Regions from separate parts of the Homo sapiens genome. Here region 1 is linked to region 2. Evidence: fine-mapped expression QTL. A gene starts in region 2. The other region holds a variant in brackets. All regions are shown on one strand. Distances are from middle to middle. Region 1 overlaps D2HGDH (D-2-hydroxyglutarate dehydrogenase). Region 2 holds the start of NEU4 (neuraminidase 4).

Region 1 (2,895 bases), 57 kb before region 2:
CAGGCTGCCCAGGCTTTGCTGAGGTTCTGCAGACCTTCAGCACCTGCAAGGGGATGCTGGGTGAGATCCTGTCTGCATTCGAGTTCATGGATGCTGTGTGCATGCAGCTGGTCGGGCGCCATCTCCACCTGGCCAGCCCGGTGCAAGGTACTGACCCCCCACACAGGGGGCAGCTGGTCCTGCAGCTCCTTCTGCACGTCTGGACACATGGGACGGCTCAGAGACCCCGGGTGGGCGGGGGGTGCCCGGGCGGGCGGGTGGGGGGTCCCTGGGCGGAGCATGGAGTGGCCGTTGGGCTCATGTGTAAGAAAGCTGCTCTTAACATATTTAGGACAAAGAACAGGCTGCCCTGGTCCTGTGTAAGGTTTGTAGTTACACAGATTTCCTGATCTTCTGCAGGAAGGACGGGAAGGAACTAAGTGGCTATTTTTGGTGAGCTGGGAGACTTTCTTTCCATTTCTTCTTTTCTTTGTTTTCCCATGTTGCTTTCTGTAAGCACGTTTTTCTTTTATGCTGGGAAAAAAGCCAATAATTTTTTGTTGTTGGGGGATGGAGTTTCGCACTGTGGCCCAGGCTGGAGTGCAATGTCACGATCTTGGCTCACTGCAGCCTCCACCTCCCGGATTCAAACCATTCTCCTGCCTCAGCAGCCTCCACCTCCCGGGTTCAAACGATTCTTCTGCCTCAGCAGCTTCCACCTCCCGGGTTCAAACAATTCTCCTGCCTCAGCCTCCTGAGTAGCTGGGATTACGGGCACCTGCCACCACACTCAGCTAATTTTTGTATTTTTAGTACAGACAGGGTTTTGCCGTGTTGTCCAGGCTGGTCTCGAACTCGTGACCTCAGGTGATCCACCCACCTCAGCCTCCCAAAGTGCTGGGATTACAGGTGTGAGCCACTGTGCCCGGCCAAAGACGACTTTTTAAACCTTCTGAAAGTCAGCTTAACCAGAGAGCTGTGTGCTCCGCAGGCTGCCTGGGTCCTTCTTGGCCACGAAAGATCAGTGGTTGCTATTACAGCTGTTCTGCCCGAGCAGCCCTGATTCTTGCCCTGGCAGCCGGAGCCTCTGCTCACTCTGCCTTCCTTGCTCACTTCTAGAGAGTCCGTTTTACGTCCTCATCGAGACTTCAGGCTCCAACGCAGGCCATGACGCTGAGAAGCTGGGCCACTTCCTGGAGCACGCGCTGGGCTCCGGCCTGGTGACCGATGGGACCATGGCCACCGACCAGAGGAAAGTCAAGGTGCCCTGTGTCCTGCTTGCAGGTCCCCGCTCTCTGTCCGTCCAGTCCAGCCTTGTCTTGGGATGCCTGGAACGGTCATTGGTGCAGCCTAGACAGTGTGGGATGTGGCTGAAATGTGACTGGGTTTCATGGCTTTGAGAGAGTAGCCTCTTTGGATGGAAAATGTATTCCTGGTGTCTAGGCCATTTTCATTAATATTTAAAAAGTACTTCCTCCC[C/G]ACCATGACCCTCCCCAACCCCATGCTGTGGGATGAGCAAGGGGACTGCCCCATTGCTGGTCCCCTGCAGCCTGTGGTTAAGCGGCCAGTCAGCGGCAGCTCCGCATAGAGTCGTGTGGAAGGAGTGGAGGCAGGAGGAGCCCCTGGGGCTGTGGAGGCTTAGCCTGGACCTCGGGAGTCCTAGGATGGGCAGTTTTCCTTCCCTAGGAGGAAGGGGCGTTGACTGTGTGACCAGATGATTTGGCCTTTTGAGGCCAAAGGAAGGAGGGGCAAGGCCTGGGCAGGGGGAGCCCTCGGTCACCGTCACCGGGGCCTGGGCAGGGGGAGCCCTCGGTCACCGTCACCGGGGCCTGGGCAGGGGGAGCCCTCGGTCACCGTCACCGGGGCCTGGATAGTGGGAGCCATTGGTCACTGTTACCGGGACCTGGGTGGGAGGAGCCCTCAGTTACCTTCACCGGGGCCTGGGCAGTGGGAGGCGCCCTTGGTCACCGTCACCAGGGCCTGAGCAGTGGGCGCAGGACTTTACTCCCGCTTAGTTGATTTCAGGCTCGTGTTAGCCTGGGTGTTGCCCTTGCCATCTTCCCCCCTCACCTTTGCCGCCTGACTGTCATGATTCCAGTGCTTCTGGGCAAAACGGTGTCTGCTCCCAAGGGCTGGGGTGCGGTCGGCTGGGCTCACTTGTGTGTCCTGATGCCCAGCCCAGGGGCGTCCTCTGGGCGAATGGCAGCTGTGTGGTGCCATCTCTGTTGACTGAGGCATGATCAAGTGTGCGTCCTTCCTAGGTCTCTGCCTGCCATTCCTGCATTTTTCTAAGTGGACTGTGACAGTCAGCTCCCTTACATTCTGCCGCAGTAACAAGCAATCCCCAGGCCCCAGGGACCACACGAACAGAGGCTCACCCTCCCTCGCGTTCCGTGTGGGTGATCGCTGTGGCTGCATGTGCTCCTGTGGCTTCCAGTCCAGGGGCCCGGGCTGAGGCAGCTGCCCAGCCAGTCAGTCTGTTTTCCCAGCAGAAAGAGCAGGACAGCCGCCGGGGATTCTCTCAGCTTCTGCTTGAGATGGGGCGGGAACGTGAGCCCAACTGCCCTTGGTGGTGCGGGTGGGGACCCTCATCCCGCACTGGCTGCTTTGCTGGAGTGGCAGTCAGTCATGCAGCCCCCACACCACCCCCAGGAGGGCGACCCTGGCACCCCAGCCTCCACACATCAGCCCCCATGCCCCCACAAAGGAAGGCTGCCCCCAACACCCCCAACCTCTCTACCAGCCCCCATGCCACCCCCAGGGCGGGCCGTCCTCCATGCCCCCAGCCTCTGCACATCATCCCCCACGCCACCCCCAGGGCGGACTGTCCCCAACGCCCCCAGCCTCTGCACATCAGTCCCCAGCCCCTCCACAGCCTGGTCCAGTCCTAGACCTGTGCCTTGAACATTAATGCCC
Region 2 (2,895 bases):
GAGCACCTTCCCTCCCCCCTCAGCCCAGGGACCTCCGCAGGCCACCCTCCCTCCCCCCTCAGCCCAGGGACCTCCGCAGGCCACCTTCCCTCCCCCTCAACCCAGGGACCTCCGCAGGCCACCCTCCCTCCCCCCTCAGCCCAGGGACCTCCGCAGGCCACCTTCCCTCCCCCCTCAGCCCAGGGACCTCTGCAGGCCACCTTCCCTCCCTCCCCCCTCAGCCCAGGGACCTCTGCAGGCCACCCTCCCTCCCTCCCCCCTCAGCCCAGGGACCTCCGCAGGCCACCCTCCCTCCCCCCTCAGCCCAGGGACCTCTGCAGGCCACCTTCCCTCCCCCCTCAGCCCAGGGACCTCTGCAGGCCACCTTCCCTCCCCCCTCAGCCCAGGGACCTCCGCAGGCCACCCTCCCTCCCCCCTCAGCCCAGGGACCTCCGCAGGCCACCCTCCCTCCCCCCTCAGCCCAGGGACCTCTGCAGGCCACCTTCCCTCCCTCCCCCCTCAGCCCAGGGACCTCTGCAGGCCACCCTCCCTCCCTCCCCCCTCAGCCCAGGGACCTCCGCAGGCCACCCTCCCTCCCCCCTCAGCCCAGGGACCTCTGCAGGCCACCTTCCCTCCCCCCTCAGCCCAGGGACCTCTGCAGGCCACTCTCCCCTCTTAGCCCAGGGACCTCGGCAGGCCACCCTCCCTCCCTCCCTCCCTCCCCCCTCAGCCCAGGAAAGGCACAGGAGAGGATCCTGCCAGGTAAAGGGAAAGTGGCCCGGGAGGAGCCCACGTGCCAACAACAGGAGTCCCAGAAGACAGAAAAGACCACAGATGAGAAAGCAGTTCACGCAGAGAACAAAACGTTCCCGGACCAAACCCAGGGTCGGGTTGCTCATTCCCGAGGCCCGATAGCGAGATGCAGATGAACTGGGGAAGAAGAGGGATTTTATTTCTGTAACTGGTTACAGGGAGAAGGCCTGGAAATGATCGCCAGACCAACTCCAGATTACAGTTTTTCCAGAGCTTACACACCTTCTAAGCTCTGTGTCTCCGTGTCAGTGTGCATTCGTCTAAAGACGTACGTGATTCAATTCTTCTCATCTCTAACTGAGGTCTGGTCCTGAAGATCTTCCTCTGAAGACTCAGTAAATTTACTTGATCTAAATGGGCCCAGGTGTTTACCCTTATCTTGTCTTCTGCTAAATCATGGAGGTTTGGGGAGTTCCTTCTCCACTTGTTTGTGGAGGCCTGGGGAGTTTTTTCAGACCCCCAGTAAAACTTGTTTAATCCTAAACGGGTCCTGGTCTCGTCATGCTTCAAGGCCCAAGAAAGCCCTGGGCAAAACTCTTGATGGGCTTTTGTTACGTCCCAGCCCTCGTGTGAGGGCGCTGGCTCTCAGCTTTCAGGATTTCACTTCACCCTCAGTCAGTGCTGAACAGTTGTCGCGGAGGCCTGCGTGAGTGAGGCCTGGCGTGCCCTGGAAACATTCCCCTGAGTTGAAGAAAGACTCACAGTTTTCAGCATCCAGTTACCCTCTGAGCATCAGGCAGAACCCGCCGGCCCCAAAACCAGGCCCCCTTGGCACATGTGGGCCCGAGTGAGTCCAGCATGAGGAGGTGCCGCTTCTGAGCAGAGCTCAGGTTGTCTCTGGGAGGAGGAGCGAGCGTTGGGTGCGGTGGCCGCTGCGTTGGCAGCCCTGTCCCTGAGCGGAACGCAGGTCGTCTCTGGGAGGAGGAGCGAGGGTTGGACGCAGTGGCCGCTGCGGTGGCAGCCCTGTCCCCAGGCGTGGACTCTGCCCTCAGCTTCACAGTCACCGAAGAAATGAAGTTACAGGAGGGGCACACCGTCCTTTTGTCTCTGCCTTTGAGGTTGGCGGGAACTGAAACTGGTACGGTCTTTTTGAATAGAAATTTGGGGTCTTTCTGGCGACGTAAAACTGTGTGTAGTTTGCAGTAGAGAGTGTTGAGAACAGCCTGTCCGGGCTGTGCATTGAGAAGGGGCGGTTAAAATGCTGCCACGTCGTGCAGCCCATAAAAGGGGGACACAGAGTAGCCGAAACTGCTCTTGGGGGAGGGGGCACGTCCCAGCCTTCCGTGTGATGCTGGGGTCAGCGTGGCCCCTCGGCTGCCAGAGCTCACGAAGACGGTTAAGGAAAGCTTCCCCCGGGTGGCTTTCACCCCACGGGGACAGAGCCCCAGATGGGCCCAGGGACCTCTGAGCAGCCGTGGGCCATGGGGTGACAGTTGGGGGTTGGTGGGACCCGTGGCTGTCATATACCCTGGGTAGACGGTGGCTTGTCCAGGCAGAGATGCCCAGGGGAAGTGGGTGGCACCTGAGGGCAGATCTGACTTTTCAAGAGAAGCTGAAAACACGGGTTTTTCTGTGAAATCTCTAGATTGAAAACAGTGGGCTTGAAAAGCCTGGAGCAGAGGGAGTGAGGCCTGCCCCCCACCCCAGCTCTGCGGGCACACCCTGGCCAGACAGCCCTGCTCCAGACCCGGCCTGTGTCTCAGGGTGGCCCAGGAGGGGACTTTGCAAGGTGACGTGGGGCTTGGAGGTCCCGTTTCCCTGTAAGCCTGGGTACTTAGGGGATGGCCCTGGTCAGACTCCACCAGTCCCAGACTTGGGGGACACGAGAAGGGAGATGGGCCACCCAGTTCTGGTTGGGCTGGGGTGGGGCTTCTGAGGGGTGGGGAGGTTGTCCCTTCCCACCCACCTGCCCCTGCCCCAGGATTCTCGGCTGTGAGCAGGAGGATGTGTACGATGGCCAAGTTGCCTGGACTGGGTCCGCCCCTCCTGGGGCTGTGAGTGCACAGGACACTGGGCCCACAGGCACCTCTGGGGCTCTGTCCCCGTGGGGTGAAAGCCACTTGGGGGAAGCTTTCCTTAACCGTCTTCACGAGCTCTGGCGGC

The links. PIP is the estimated chance that this variant, and not a neighbour inherited with it, causes the effect. A credible set is the group of variants that fine-mapping cannot tell apart.
Region 1: its variant is the best candidate, but not a certain one, in a credible set for the expression of NEU4 in left ventricle (GTEx, PIP 0.51).

What each region holds. Positions count from the first base shown.
Region 1 is chr2:241,750,148-241,753,042 of GRCh38, forward strand. D2HGDH (D-2-hydroxyglutarate dehydrogenase) reads left to right here. Exons shown (of 10, transcript NM_152783.5): 7 at 4-147; 8 at 1,099-1,241. Among named protein-coding and RNA genes, the nearest start is that of D2HGDH, 17 kb to the left of the region's middle. The variant C/G (reference allele first, on the strand shown) is at 1,459.
Region 2 is chr2:241,807,405-241,810,299 of GRCh38, forward strand. It overlaps NEU4 (neuraminidase 4), which reads left to right and starts at 1,789. Exons shown (of 4, transcript NM_001167600.3): 1 at 1,789-1,870. It overlaps LOC124905349 (a long non-coding RNA gene), which reads right to left. Exons shown (of 2, transcript XR_007088398.1): 2 at 911-1,964.